4 linked regions of the Homo sapiens genome follow. The protein of the gene in region 2 purifies or fractionates together with the protein of the main gene of each other region. This does not show direct contact. Each region holds a gene or a part of one and is shown on either strand. Other genes may lie near its edges.

Region 1 (3,500 bases), on a different chromosome or scaffold from region 2:
ACCACACCCAGCTAGGTTTTGTATTTTTAATAGAGATGGGGTTTCACTATGCTGGCCAGGGTGGTCTCGAACTCCTGACCTCATGATCCACTAGCCTTGGCCTCCCAAAATGCTGGGATTACAGGCGTGAGCCACTGCGCCTGGCCTACCCTCAGAATATTTCTGTGAGGGGTGGGCTAGGATATCCGCTTGTGGACTTTATATTTGTCATTTTTGCCCATAACAGTTTATTCAGCAAATACATTTCCAATGCCCCCGAGTCGTCAAAGAAAATGTGACCCTGCTGTCTGGAGTCATAGGTGGCTGCTGAGCAGTGTACCAGGGCCATCTTGGTGGCCTGGACAGCACATTAGAGAAACAAGAGCTGCTTGCCCCAGGGTAAGTTTCACAGATGAGGAGCGATTTGGGCCGAGTGTCCAAGGCTGTTTTCACTGGAGGGGAGGGAGGAACGTTCCATGTCTGGAAAGCTGCAGGTGCAAGGGTAAGGAGATAGCTCTGAATAATTGGTTTGATGAAAGACTTGCGGGAGTGTGCAGGAGTGATGGTGAATGAGGCTAGCAGTTGTGTCTTTTCTGTCAGATATAAGCTTGTGCGTAGGAGCCTCATCCTGCATTCCTCAGGACAGTCACAGAGCCAGCCCTGGGCCTGGTGTGTGGGGAGCCCAGCCACGTGGCCCACCATGAGAGCTTTTCGTCAGAGCTCCAACTGTCAGAAGTGTCAGATGTGCCAGTAGAAGGATGAGGCCGCCTCCTAAAGGAGAGGGAAGACCTGGAAAGATCAACAGCAGACGCAGTCTCCCAAAGCAAACGTGATTCTGTGGTCAGGCAGGTACGGTGACGGGTTGGTCATTTTGCATGACGAGGTGACTGCCACAATCACCAAGGGTGCCGAGTCCAGTCTCCTGGTCATGCCAGATGCTCTTGTTTTCGTGAAATTGCCAGAACATGACTGAGGCAACCACGATAGGACTGGTTGGTGCAGGCGTTAAGATCTTGGGCCTTTTTGTTCTCTGTAAGCTGGAGCCTTTGCTGGAACTTCCTGTCTTGGAAATCAGAGTTGTGAGAGTAGGTCCCCTGCCAGCACCAGGAAGGTCGGGAGAGCTGGTTTCCTCACTTTGCTCAGGGCTCAAGTACTAGCTAGTTTGTTTCATCTTCCAAAAAGAGCCTCACCTGGACCCCGCTCCTGTAGGTGGTGCCTGCCTGCTGCGCCCTCCCCTTCAGTACTTCGTTTTGTTGACGGGTTTTGCCTCCTCCCTCTGCTCTCCCTTTGTTTGGAGCCTGTGCTGTTTGATTTCCGTGTCTTGTGTGCTGCACCCTTCAGGAGAATTCAGGTGAATTTCTGGTGCTCTCCGGCTGTTCTTTTCAGAGTGGAGGGGAGTAGTACTTGCTGGTCAGTTGCGACTCTGTCTGTGAAACAGCTCTTTGTGTTGCTGAGATGACGCTAGAGGTGTAGCGTCCATGACATGTTTGTCGTCTGATTAAGCTGTGGTGCTGGCACTTAGACGGCAGAGGAAGGTGTGGCCCAGCTGTCCAAGGCCACCAGGAGGACCTTCAGCTTAGTTAGGACCAAGGGAACTGAGTTATCTGAGTGCCTGAAAAAGAACACATCAGGCCGGGCGCGGTGGCTCTCGTCTGTAATCCCAGCACTTTGGGAGGCCGAGGTGGGTGGATCACTTGAGTTCAGGAATTTGAGACCAACCTGGCCAACATGGCGAAACCCCGTCTCTACTAAAAATACAAAGAAATTAGCCAGGGTGGTGGCAGGCGCCTGTAATCCCAGATACTTGGGAGGCTGAGGCACGAGAATTGCTTGAACCTGGGAGGTGGAGGTTGGAGGTTGCAGTGAGCCAAGATTGTGCCACTGCACTCCCTCCTGGGCGACAGTGCAAGACTCTGTCTTGGAAACAAACACATCAATCCGAATGTAAGAGATTAGCAAAGCGTTTATTGGTTACTGGGTGAGTAGTTGGCCTAAGCTAAGACAAAAGAGGAATCTCCAAGTATTTTGCTACCCCTTGGCAGGAAGAGAGGGAATGCAGCTTGCGGGGTGGGGATGGGGGTGTCAGGTTGATAAGAAAACTGTGGGAAAATAAACATTTACTCCTGCCCCCCATGTCAGTAAATACCATGTGACAAAGGTGAGTTCCATGAAAGAGGCTGTTACTGAGGCCTGTGATACTTGCTTGTCTCAAAATGCTGACATATCTTTTTTTTTTTTTTTTTTTTTTTTTTTTTTTTTTGAGACAGATTCTTTCTGTCGCCAGGCTGAAGTGCAGTGGCATGACCTCAGCTCACTGCAACTTCCGCCTCCTGAATTCAGGCAGTTCTCCTGCCTCAGCCTCCTGAGTAGCTGGGACTACAGGTGCATGCCACCATGGCCAGCCAATTTTTGTATTTTTAGTAGAGACGAGGTTTCACCGTGTTGGGCAAGATGGTCTCAATCTTTTGACCTTTTGATCTGCCTGCTTTGGCCTCCCAAAGTGCTGGGATTACAGACATGAGCTACCACGTCGGGCCTGACAAAGAATCTTGATAGCGATTGAAAATGTATCCATTCATACTCAAATGAAGTAAAAAGTGCTTTTGGGTTCAAAGCCAGAGAATGTTCATGGATGGCGTTTTTGGTGCCTCAAGTGTAGCCAGCTAGAACTTTTCTTACCACCGTCCTGCTTAGTCCTACTGAAGACCTGCCTTCTACTAGGAAGCTGCTCTTAGTCCACAAAGTGGCTTCCCTGTAGTTCCACAGCATTTAACAAAATAGATTTCAGGGAGTTTATTTGTGGTGTGGCTGGTTATTTCTGCTAAAACCACTAGGAATTACCATAAAAGCTGTAGCTTGGAGAAACAGTATCTACTTGCGGGAGTATTACTGCCACCTGTGTTTTTTTTGTTTTTGTTTTGGTTTTTGTTTTTTTTTTGTTTTTTTCAAGATGGAGTCTTGCTCTGTTTCCCAGGCTGGAGTGCAGTGGCACGAACTCGGCTCACTGCAATCTCCACCTCCCGGGTTCAAGCAGTTCTCCTGCCTCAGCCTCCCAAGTAGCTGGGGCTACAGGCATGCACTACCGTGCCCGGCTAATTTTTGTATTTTTAGTTGAGGTAGAGTTTCACCATGTTGGCCAGGCTGGTCTTGAACTTCTGACCTTGTGATCTGCCTGCCTCGGCCTCCCAAAGTGCTGGGATTACAGGTGTGCGCCACCGTTCCCAGCCCTGCCATTGGCTTTTTAACCAGGTGAATTCCTGTAGATTGGGTAGATTGAAAGGACATGTAGCTGAATCATTGGTTTTAAAAGGAATGGCTCAGTTACTTCATAGCCATATAATTAAGAAATGTGGCTAGAAGGTAAAAAATTGGCCAGGCCTGGTAGCTCATGCTTGTAATCCCAGCACTTTGGGGGCTGCGGCGGGAGGATCCTGTGAGTTTAGGAGTTTGAGACCAGCCTGGGCAACCTAGAGAGACCCCCATCTCTACCAAAAAACCCTTTTTTTTTTTTTTCCAATTAG
Region 2 (2,798 bases):
AAAATTCAACCAACTAGCTCAGAAGAGGGGAGAAGGCCAAGGTTGAGAGAAGAGTCACAGCCTGTCAGGCAGATAGCTGGCCTCCGGCGGGAAGGCCATTTCCCTGAGCACTTGCAGAGGAAGACAGGGTGGTGGCAGGACTGGAGTGGCAGTGGCTCCCAAGGCTCTCTCCTCCAACATGTGCATCTGCCATCTGCTCTGCAGTCCTGCCGCAGGATTCCCTAGTGAAGCAGCTCAGGCCTGGGGGAGCCGTGTGTATCCCAGCTGTGCCGGCAGCATCATACCAATCGTGGGGGTGGTGAAGGAGCCAGGGGTTCATTCATGGTTGGTTTCTGATCAGGCATCTTGGGAATGGATAATGGAGGCAGCCGCTTTCAGGACAGGCATGTCCAGGGGCTCCTCCCAGCCTCTACCCCGAAGTCCTCTTCCCAAGTGACCCCAGTGATGTTTCCATTGAGATGCGCTCCTGGCTATGGCAGGCACCTTCTCAACTTATATGTGGGAAGGGGTCCCCCATGCTTGGGGGACCTAGGCAGCTGGCTTGGCCCAAGAGAGATGAGGATGGAGGCCAAACCAAAGGGGGGCGCCAATCCCCTGTCCAACACCTTCTCACCAAAAGCTCCCGTTTGGCTGGAGGCAGACCCTGTGGCTCTGACCAGACTTCTCTGGCAGCAATCCTCCACCATTTGTATCTTAAGAAGGCCCTCACCCTCTTTGAGTGGAGTCAGAGGATGCCTCAGATTCCAGATGTAAGCATCAGAACTGCTTTCTGTCAAGAGCTCCCTAATTTTGGGAAAGAAGAGCCTGTCCCACACTGTCAGGCCCTGAGGTCAGCAGATCTGCTCCTCCTTCCCGTGCGGTACGTCTAGGTGCTGATGAGGGCAGTCCAGGGCGCTCTTGTTCTGGGACAGGCTCCAGTCCCCTTGCTCCAGCAGGTCTGGGGCAAGGAGGTCAGAGGTGGTGGGAGGGCCCCTGCTCTCTGTTTCCACTTCGTCTGGATCCTTGCTGCTGCAAAGTGGCACTGATTCTAGCTCTGTCCCTTCCTCCTTGGCTTTCCGGCTCCGATGGGGCCAGTGGCAGGGTCCACTCCTACAAACTTGATTGGAAGCCACATTCCTCTGGCTCAAATATACTTCCAGCATGTAGTAAACAGTCCAGAAGACGGTGAAACAGCCTACCAGCACCAGGGTCTGGGGCCGAGGCAAGCACCTACGTGAGGCACTGTTTCCCGAAGCCTACAGCCTTTCTCAGCCCAGGACAATGAGCTCAGAAAGTCTTTTTCCTTCTAGGGACTGCCTTTTTCACCCAAACTGTTCCCTCTGCCCCCTCCCCCGACAAGGCCTGTCCTGTAAGAGTTAGGCTAGCAGGGTAGGAGCAATGCTATGAAACCACTGCTGGGACCCAGGTCTTCCCAGTCCTTCACCCCGCAGGTCACCCTGAGAAACACACTAAGAACTCCATCCCCCAGACAGGACAGTCCCATCTACCCGCAGCTTGAGTCTTGGCCCTAGTACCTTGAGGGTGTTGGGGGTGATGGTGTAACCATCTTCCTCAGGAATTTTCAGCCCCGGTGGGCAGGGCAGGGCGAAGTCATCGTGCAGGTATTTTCCACTCATGGCACTCTCTAACAGCCTGTGGAGAAGAAAAGAGGTGAGGATGCCCCACTGACTATGGTTCCTATACCATCTGCCCTCACCCATTTTCCTGCCTTACAGGTGAAGACAGGGAAGCCCCACAGCAAAAAGGAGAGGCCCAGACTGTGAGTTCCCAGCCCGGGGCTCCATCTACCGGCTTGACGCTGGAACTGGGAAGCACAGCTGGGGTTCAGAGGGCGATGGGCTCCCTAGGCGGCCCTTCCCCTGTGACTGGCCTTCCCTCTGACACATGCGGCTTTACCCACCTTTGTCTGTCCCTGATGTCTACTGCACTCCACACAGAGCCATATAGGGTCAGCTGCCATTGCCGGAGGATGCCGACCTGGAATGACTCATCCCCTAGGGCAGCAAGGGGCAGCTCGTGAGCCACGCCCCTCTGTCAGCCATGCCAGACAGCAGAGGCCCTGCCCGCCCTGCCACCCAAAGGGGCTCAGGCCACATGGTCTGCTCCAGGAGCTGCCTCACTGTGTCCCACTGACCCCAGGTTCTGCAGAAGGGCCTCACTGGGTGCCCTTAGGGATGGAAAGGGTTGAAAGGCTGTACTCCAAAGCAGAGTCTTGCTTTTCTCTCCCGTATTTTGGGGGTTCAGCTGGGATTAGAAAAAAATGTCTTTCCACCAAATTAAAGAAAGCTTTGAAAACCACTGGCCTAGAGAATACCTAACTGACTGGAGGATGGGAGGGTGGAGCTCAATTTCCAGTCTATAGGCTGATACTAAAGATATTCACAATTCATGGATATTGTGGCCTTCACTGATATGGTGACCTTCCACAAGTCACCTCAAACCTCTGGGCCAGTTTAAAAAAAATGGTGAAATGAGTCCTGCCCTTACCTGCCTACCGGGGCTGGCCGAAGGATGGTTATACGTAAAAGGACTTGAAATGTGGTTTCGACAAGGACTTTTTGTTGCTATCCTGAGGAAAGATGGATGGGTCACTCCTCCAGGGAATATGAGAGGTAGTATAAATGAACAGTTGCAGAGAGCAATGCCCATTTCACGGATGGGCACACTCTTGGCATCAACTCTCTTGGTCCAATGGCAACCCTATATATTGCACACGGGACACTTTCTGTGGGGACTCTGAGATGCAGAGGGACCAGATAACAAGCAGGAAAGGTAGGGCCTGGTGTGAGGGCACGAGA
Region 3 (4,171 bases), on a different chromosome or scaffold from region 2:
GGTTTTGCCATGTTGCCCAGGCTGGTCTCAAATTTGTGAGCTCAAGCGATCCACCCACCTCGGCCTCCCAAAGTGCTGGGACTACAGGCGTGAGCCACCGCACCTGGCCTGGTTGTTTTCTAAATGAGCCATTATCTCCCTTCTCCAAAGTTAAGTGAAAGCAATCATATTCATAAGTAGTTTGAAAGGGAATTCGACATAGCCTCTTAGCTATCAAAAGACAGATCTTTATTTAACTCACTTACACAATGATGCTTAAGTATTGAACTGGGAAGTCTCTATCAGTAATAATGAATTTCATTAATTCAATGAATATTTATTGGACAGGTGTGGTGGCTCACACTTATAATCCCAAAACTTTGGGAGGCCAACGTGGGTGGATTGCTTGAGCTTAGGAATTCGAGACCAGCTGAAAAACATGGCGAAACCTTGTCTCTTTAAAAAATACAAAAATTAGCGGGGCATGGTGCTGTGTGCCTATGGTCCCAGCCACGCAGGAGGCTGAGGTGGGAGGACCTGTTGGGCCCAGGAGTTACAGCTTACAGTGAGCAGTGATTGCACCACTGCACCCCCGCCTGGGCAAGAGGGATACCTTGTCTCAAAAAAAAAAAACATAAAAGTAGGGAAACAAGCTCATAGACATTAAGCAACTTGCCCAGAAAGTGGCAAAACCTGGACTTAAACCCAGGTTACTTAAATGGAATGTTAAGTGATACATACCCTGCTGTCTTGGTATCTGCTGTGTGGATTCCACCTTTGATCTTCTCTGGTGTAAAGGTTATTTCTGTTGAGCCAATTTCTGCCCCCTCCAGTTGCCCATCACACAAATCTCGAATCATTTCCAGTCCAGATAAATGTTGAGGCCTTCAGGTCATAATACTGCATCAAAACGTGTGCATTCAGACTGCCTACATCCCCACATTTTATGACAAATTTATAAAACTGCAATGGCAAGAAAACAGCAAGGTCTAACCACAGTAAGTGCCACATCTTCAGTGTCAGCTTCCTTTTGGGTTTTTATGCACCTAGACTACCTGCTAGTATGTATCATTTTAACACTTCCTTGCAGACCAGTTATTTCTGACTATAAATACATACCCTGATATATTGCTGCAAATTAGAAGTGTGCTAAAGAAGAAAACTAATAGTTATTTCAGTGCCACCAGTCTCGCTTGCACTTGACTGAACAATCTATGGTGCCTGTATGGGCTGAACTATGTTCCCCCTAAATTAATATGCTGAGACTGTAACCCTCCGTATCTCAGAATGTGACTATATTTGGAGATAGAGCCTTTAAAGAGATAATTAAGTTAAAATAAGGCCACCATACAATCTTACTGGTGTCCTTATAAAAAAAAAAAAAACTAGAACATACAGAGACGCTAGGGGCAAGGTACACAGAGGAACCACCATGTGAAGAGGCAAAAAGACAGGCCTGGAGCAGATCCTTTTCTCATGGCTCTCAGAGGAAACCAACCTTGTCAGGACCTTGATCTTGGACTTCCAGCCTCCAGAACTGTGAGGAAATAAATTTCTGTTGTTTAAGCTCCACTCTGTGTGTGGCATTTTGTTATGGCAGCCCTAGCAAACTAATACAACACCTACAGCCTAATGAATTGGATTCCCCTGTTGGTGAACTGGAGGGCTGCAAACTATGACAAAGGCAATTAACATTAACATATCAGTAATTGCCTTTTGGTAATTTCAAAACTGTAGACAAAAGACTGAGACCGCTGATTTATTAAAATGTAATAAATACAGAATACATACAAAGCAATCAGTGTGGCTTCAAACCTGGGTCCTCTTCTAGCAGGTGCATGTACCTGAAGCTCAACTAGTGGCATGCCCAGCTACCCAGACAGAAGAAATAAGGTCAAATGTCAAGGTGTTTCCCTCTCCACAACAGATAATTCTGGTCATAACAGCTCTCTGGAGGTATGAATGAAGGCTGGGATAACACATCTCAGGATTCTTTCCTGTTTTATGATTCTAAAACTGACAGCAGAACCAGAATGCACTGGTTATAAAACAGGGTTTCCTCTGGCGTCACAAGCATTTCTGCCCTATCTATCTTGCCAGCTCATACGTGCTGTTCGGATATTTGGAATGCCCGGTGAGGTGAGAAAACATTTTAAAAGCTAGCTCTTCAGCAAATGACACTATTTAGTCAAACAGAGAAAACTCGAGACCATTTCTAAACTCACCCCTCCAGGCTTTCAAGACTTTACAACCCAGGCCACCGCCCAGGCAGAGTGCCCCGCCCTGGATCGCCCATACCTGCGTCTGGGACCTTCTGGGTTCCACCACTCGGACTCCCGATGCCCCAGCCCGGCAGCCCGACCCCCCGATCCCCCAGCTTCACGGCCCAACTCCCCCTCCAGCCAGATTTACCTCAGGCCTGGCGTGCTCCGGCCGGCTCGGATCTTCTGCACCCGCAAGGGGAGGCCTAGGAGACAGCTCAAGGCCGTAGAGACTCTCAGGATCTGGCCGCCCTGCAAAGGTTGGGGTACAGGGAGAAGAGAAGTAAGCACACCGGTGGTGAGAGCTCCCCTCCTTAGTTAGGCTGCAGCCCCGGCCGCTTCGCTCTGTACTCACCCCTTCCATGATGCTGCCATCGACCTCCACCCGCGGCCCCGCCATGGGGGACACCCTGGGGCCCAGCCCGCAGCGACAAAGCCTCCGCCAGAGCGGGAGAAAGAAGAGACGTTGGCTCCCGCCCAGTAGTTCAGAAACCTTGGTTCATGCCTGGGGCGCAGGAGCCTGACGAGAAAGCGGAAGAAGCGGCGCCTCTCGGGACACTGGAGTCAGCAGAAACGAACCCCCGGGTTCGCCCAGTTCCGCAGTCAGTGCGCATGCGCGTAGCTCGGCTTAAAGGAGCCGCGCTGGGAACACTGCGGTCGGGGCGAGGAAGCTGCCGGGGAAGTGAGATGACGGTCGCGGGGGTGCCCAGGAGCCCTGAAAAACTTGTGCCCTGGGCACGGCAAAATCTGCAGGTTGCAGAAAGTCTCAACTGTAAGATAACTCCTCCAGTTATCCCGCAGGCTTGTGCTTTATCTCTGTTTTGTGGGTAAATATGTGTTTATATCTGTTTTCTCGAGGATCCTGGCATACCCCGAGGTGCCGACTTTTAGAGCTGAAGATGCAAGAAAGATTGGGATCCTGCGATGCACCGAACCTGTCTCTCGAAGTGTGTGCGCCCTGGTACATTGATACTCTTGGCCTTTGGTTCCTTGCGGTGTGCGTGTTTGTGTATGCGGAGTGTGTTATCTTTCTTTCTAGGGTGACACACCATTTATTTGAGAGGCGGGAAAGGCAGAATCACTAGTTTAATATTCTGAAAAGCCAAAGTTATGCCATTTTGCTTGAGAGTGAGTGCAAGCTCTTGACTCCCAGGAACAGTGCAGCTAACAATTCACCTCAGGCGAGGGCAGAAGCAATAGCCAGCTTCTTGGTTCTGCCTGTGGCTCAGTTCCTACATAATTGAGTACCAAATAATATGTAAACCTCTAGGGAAGCAAAAAAGAGTAATTCAGCTTCTACCCCCGAAGTTATTGGAGGTATAATGGAGAGACTGAGACGTAATCAATTACAATGTCATCCTCAATAATAATTAACATGTACTGTATTTAGAGTTTATTATGGGGACAATTACAATATATTAATAATATACTGTAACAATAACAGGCAACACTTATTGAGCACTTAGGTGTTGTGCACTGCATGCATTCATAACATGATAAAGTACTTACTGTTTTTACTGTTTTACAGCTTCCTGTGTTAAACAATTTGCTACAAGGTCACACAATTTTAACTAGAAGACTGAGATGTGAACCTGGGTGGTCTGATGTGAACACCACTGTCTGGTAATCCCAACGCTCTGCTGCTTTGCGACAGAGAATGTTTTAGGGAACACACAGACTATGTACTTAACCAAATCTGGAATTTGCCGTAAGATATTAATCAGAGAAGTAATGATACTTGCATTTTAAAATGAAGGCTTTGGCAGTAGGAGAAGGGTGAATAAGAGGCTTAAGAGCCTGAAGGGAGAAATGCCAATGATACAATTATCCAGCAAGAAATAATCAGAAGTTGAAGTAAGGCAATGATGGTAGGGATGGAATATAAAAAAGCTGTACCCCTATCTGACATCTTTATTGGGGGAACCCGCCCC
Region 4 (3,500 bases), on a different chromosome or scaffold from region 2:
CCTGTCTCTACTAAAAATACAAAAATTAGCTGGGCATGGCGGTGGGAGCCTGTAGTCCCAGCTACTCAGAAGGCTGAGGCAGGAGAATTGCTTGAACCCAGAGGCAGAGGTTGCAGTGAGCCAAGATAGTGCCACTATACTCCAGCCTGGGCAACAGAGCCAGACTCCATCTTTAAAAAAAAAAAAAACAAAAAACAAAACGTATTCATGTAACCAAACACCACCTGTTCCCCAAAAACCTATTGAAATTTTAAAAAAGAGAAAGATAACGCTTATGAAGTACACATTGTCTTTCTGTCATACTGCCACCTAAGTTATAAATATTTATGAACAACTATAGTAGGCCAGATATTTGTGATATGTTATATAACTACAAAGAAGTTGTTTTTTTAATTGTTACTCATTTTTATCTCTGTATTTGTTTCAAGTTTACTAACCAAATAACAAAAACATTTCCTCCTCCTTACACAGAACTACCTTACTCTTCTGGATGATGAGGATCATAAATTGGAATATTTGAAAATCCAGGATGAACAACACCTGGTAATTGAAGGTACAAGATGGAAGCATGCATCTATATTAAATTTTCAAGGGGAAGAATTTAAAGAGTTACTAATAACCCATTTTATAATTTTCTCCAAAACAACTATTATTTGATTATTATGTTTTTATGATAAAGAAACCCTTTGGAAAAAAAAGAAAAAGAAAACCCTTTGAACTCTTATGTAATCCTACCATACAATTTAGATTGCTTTAAAGGGAAAATATTCTGTTTTTAGTCATTGACTGACAAAGAATGGGAATGGTAGATAAAAAACAAGTGAATTCAGTTTACACATTTATAGTTCCTTAAAATTTTCAAGTTGCTGCTTTGAGTTTGAGTAAAAAGAACAACTTTCTTGCATAGTTAGTAGCACAGGCTTTCATTAGTCACCAACATTGGCTACTCACTGACAGAGCTATTTGTATATTCATAGATTTACACACTGGCATGCACATGCCATTAAAAACTTTTTAAGTGTATCTTTTCCCATCAAGTTTTGTGGCAACATTGTTAGCTGCCTTTGTATTAAAATGAATAGGCCGGGCGCAGTGGCTCACGCCTGTAATCCCAGCACTTTGGGAGGCTGAGATGGGTGGATCACTTGAGGTCAGGAGTTCCAGACCAGCCTGGACAACATGGTGAAATCTGTCTCTGCTAAAAATACAAAAATTAGCTGGGTGTGGTGGCACGTGCCTGTAGTCCCAGCTACTCAGGAAGCTGAGGCACGAGAATCAGTCAAGCCCAGGAGGCGGAGGTTGCAGTGACTCAAGATCACATCACTGCACTCCAACCTGGGGGGACAAAGCCAGACTGTCTCAAAAAAAAAAAAAGGAATAAATTACTCTGACAGTTGTTACAATTTAAGAAAGAATTGTAATTTCTAATGTTTTAAGTATAAGAAATTCCATTGTTTCTGAACTTTAATTACTTCTGTAGATGGTTGAGTATAATTTTACTTCAAGTAGGTAATTGAGGGATAAGATTATTCAAACCAAGTGACTTTAAAGTCCTCAATATGAAGAGTAGGAATGGTTTTAGAGCCAATTACAGGCATGTGCTGCAAAAAGATGTTTGTCAACAAAAGACCTGTATACAGCAGTGGTCCCATAAGATTATAATACTGTATTTTTAGTTGTGCCTTTTCTATGTTCTAACATGTTTAGATACACAAATACTTACCATTGTGTTACACTTGCCTACAGTATTCAATGCAGTAACATACTGTACAGGTTTGTAGCCAAGGAGCGACAGCCTATACCATACATAGCCTAGGTTTGTGTAGGTACACTCTGTGATGTTCACACAAAGACAAAATCACCTAATGATGCATTTCTCAGAATATAACCTCGTCGTTAAGCAATGTATGTACTAAAATTAACTAGATTTTAAAACTTCTGATTTAGGAATAAGATGTCTTTAAAAAAAAAAAGCAATCGAATGGGTATAAATTAGATAGATAAGAAATTAACACATTCCTATCTGTCCTTCCAGTTCGCAACAAAGATATGAGTTGGCCTGAGGAGATGTCTTTTATAGCAAATAGTAGTAAAATAGATAGACACAAGGGTAAGTCTCCAGTATTATTTTTTAAAGAGATTATTTTAAATGTATTCTTTTTTTTTCTTCTCTCAACTGTTAAAGTGCTAACAACTTTTGGTTTTCTAGTTCAAAAGTAATTAGGGCCTTCTTCTTTTTCTTTTTTCCTGAAGCAGCATTTGATGTTGGCAAACCCACCATCAAATTATTTTCTAAATTTCTTTCTAACTCTGCAATTAAATAATTTATATGTTTTAAAAGACATACTAGAAGAAGAATTGTTTGAATTATTTTGAAAAATCATAGCAATTAAAAAGAATAATTGCTGCTTCTGGGTTACAAATGAGCATGGATCATCACTGTTGCCAGACACTCCATGAAAAGCCTTCTCTAGCATTTCAGAGACCTGCTAGAGAATTATTAGCACCATTTAGCTGATTATGAGAGTTATAAAAAACCTTTTCATTGAATATAAGTAACTGTTTGTGCCATGGCATATTACTACAGCTAAGCTTTGGTTCTCATATTGTTTGTTCCAGTTCCCACAGAAAAGGGAGCCACAGGTCTAAGCAATCTGGGAAACACATGCTTCATGAACTCAAGCATCCAGTGTGTTAGTAACACACAGCCACTGACACAGTATTTTATCTCAGGGAGACATCTTTATGAACTCAACAGGTAATCTTTCTGGAGTCACTGGCCTCTTAACCTGTGACTTTGATATAAACCCAATATCACCTAAATTTCCTCTTTTTTCACCCTGTGGGAGAAAGATTTTATCTTATTTGCCCTATTTAATATGAAATAGGCCAAGGAATACATCTCTTGTTTCAAAAAGAAAAGATATTTTGATGTGAGATGCTAGGCATTTTTGCGCCCACATGATTGTGATTTATGAGAATCTTTGGCAACAAATTTTCCTCTCAAACTTCTAGGACAAATCCCATTGGTATGAAGGGGCATATGGCTAAATGCTATGGTGATTTAGTGCAGGAACTTTGGAGTGGAACTCAGAAGAATGTTGCCCCATTAAAGCTTCGGGTAAGCAGGTTAAAATAATATAAAAGTATTTAATTCCTAATAGTTGTTTAATCATTTTTCTCTGCTTGTTTTTTGTGTTTAGCCTTTTAACTTAATAAATGTTTTTGGATCCTTCACTTGGTATAAACAAAAGGTCAAATTCTTTTGCTTGTTTAAATATATGCAAAATTACTACTGTATATGTAGTGGGTAGGATAAAGACCAAAGGTACACTCTAAATTCGGGATGTCATTCATTTTACTAATTTGTCAAACATCTTATATGAAGAGTAAACCTTTTTTGGTAATACTTCACTATTAGCAGTATTCTAACTGCAAGGTGGACCTCAGAGTCTTATTAATTACATCCAATCCAATCCATTTTCAACGTAACTAAGATA

Evidence for each region. The genes of interacting proteins can lie anywhere in the genome.
Region 1: the proteins of TAGLN (region 2) and TRAP1 purify together in Homo sapiens (co-immunoprecipitation; one large-scale study listed by IntAct). This does not show direct contact.
Region 3: the proteins of TAGLN (region 2) and RTCA purify together in Homo sapiens (co-immunoprecipitation; one large-scale study listed by IntAct). This does not show direct contact.
Region 4: the proteins of TAGLN (region 2) and USP32 purify together in Homo sapiens (affinity purification with mass spectrometry, with the first as the bait; one study listed by BioGRID). This does not show direct contact.

The regions. Positions count from the first base shown.
Region 1 is NC_000016.10:3,711,025-3,714,524, reverse strand, and holds part of TRAP1 (heat shock protein 75 kDa, mitochondrial isoform 1 precursor), read left to right. Parts: intron 1-3,500.
Region 2 is NC_000011.10:117,205,167-117,207,964, forward strand, and holds the end of TAGLN (transgelin), read left to right. Parts: 3' UTR 1-830; coding exon of another isoform or gene 831-1,190; 3' UTR 1,191-1,514; coding exon of another isoform or gene 1,515-1,632; 3' UTR 1,633-1,900; coding exon of another isoform or gene 1,901-1,994; 3' UTR 1,995-2,298; downstream 2,299-2,798. Other genes in the region: PCSK7 (proprotein convertase subtilisin/kexin type 7 preproprotein), read right to left, coding at 831-1,190, 1,515-1,632, 1,901-1,994. UniProt on the Homo sapiens protein: Actin cross-linking/gelling protein. Involved in calcium interactions and contractile properties of the cell that may contribute to replicative senescence.
Region 3 is NC_000001.11:100,264,845-100,269,015, reverse strand, and holds the start of RTCA (RNA 3'-terminal phosphate cyclase), read right to left. Parts: upstream 2,801-4,171; 5' UTR 2,641-2,800; coding exon 2,596-2,640; intron 2,493-2,595; coding exon 2,392-2,492; intron 1,517-2,391; coding exon of another isoform or gene 1,478-1,516; intron 865-1,477; coding exon 721-864; intron 1-720.
Region 4 is NC_000017.11:60,210,634-60,214,133, reverse strand, and holds part of USP32 (ubiquitin carboxyl-terminal hydrolase 32), read left to right. Parts: intron 1-471; coding exon 472-553; intron 554-2,035; coding exon 2,036-2,110; intron 2,111-2,619; coding exon 2,620-2,758; intron 2,759-3,015; coding exon 3,016-3,121; intron 3,122-3,500. UniProt on the Homo sapiens protein: Deubiquitinase that can remove conjugated ubiquitin from target proteins, such as RAB7A and LAMTOR1.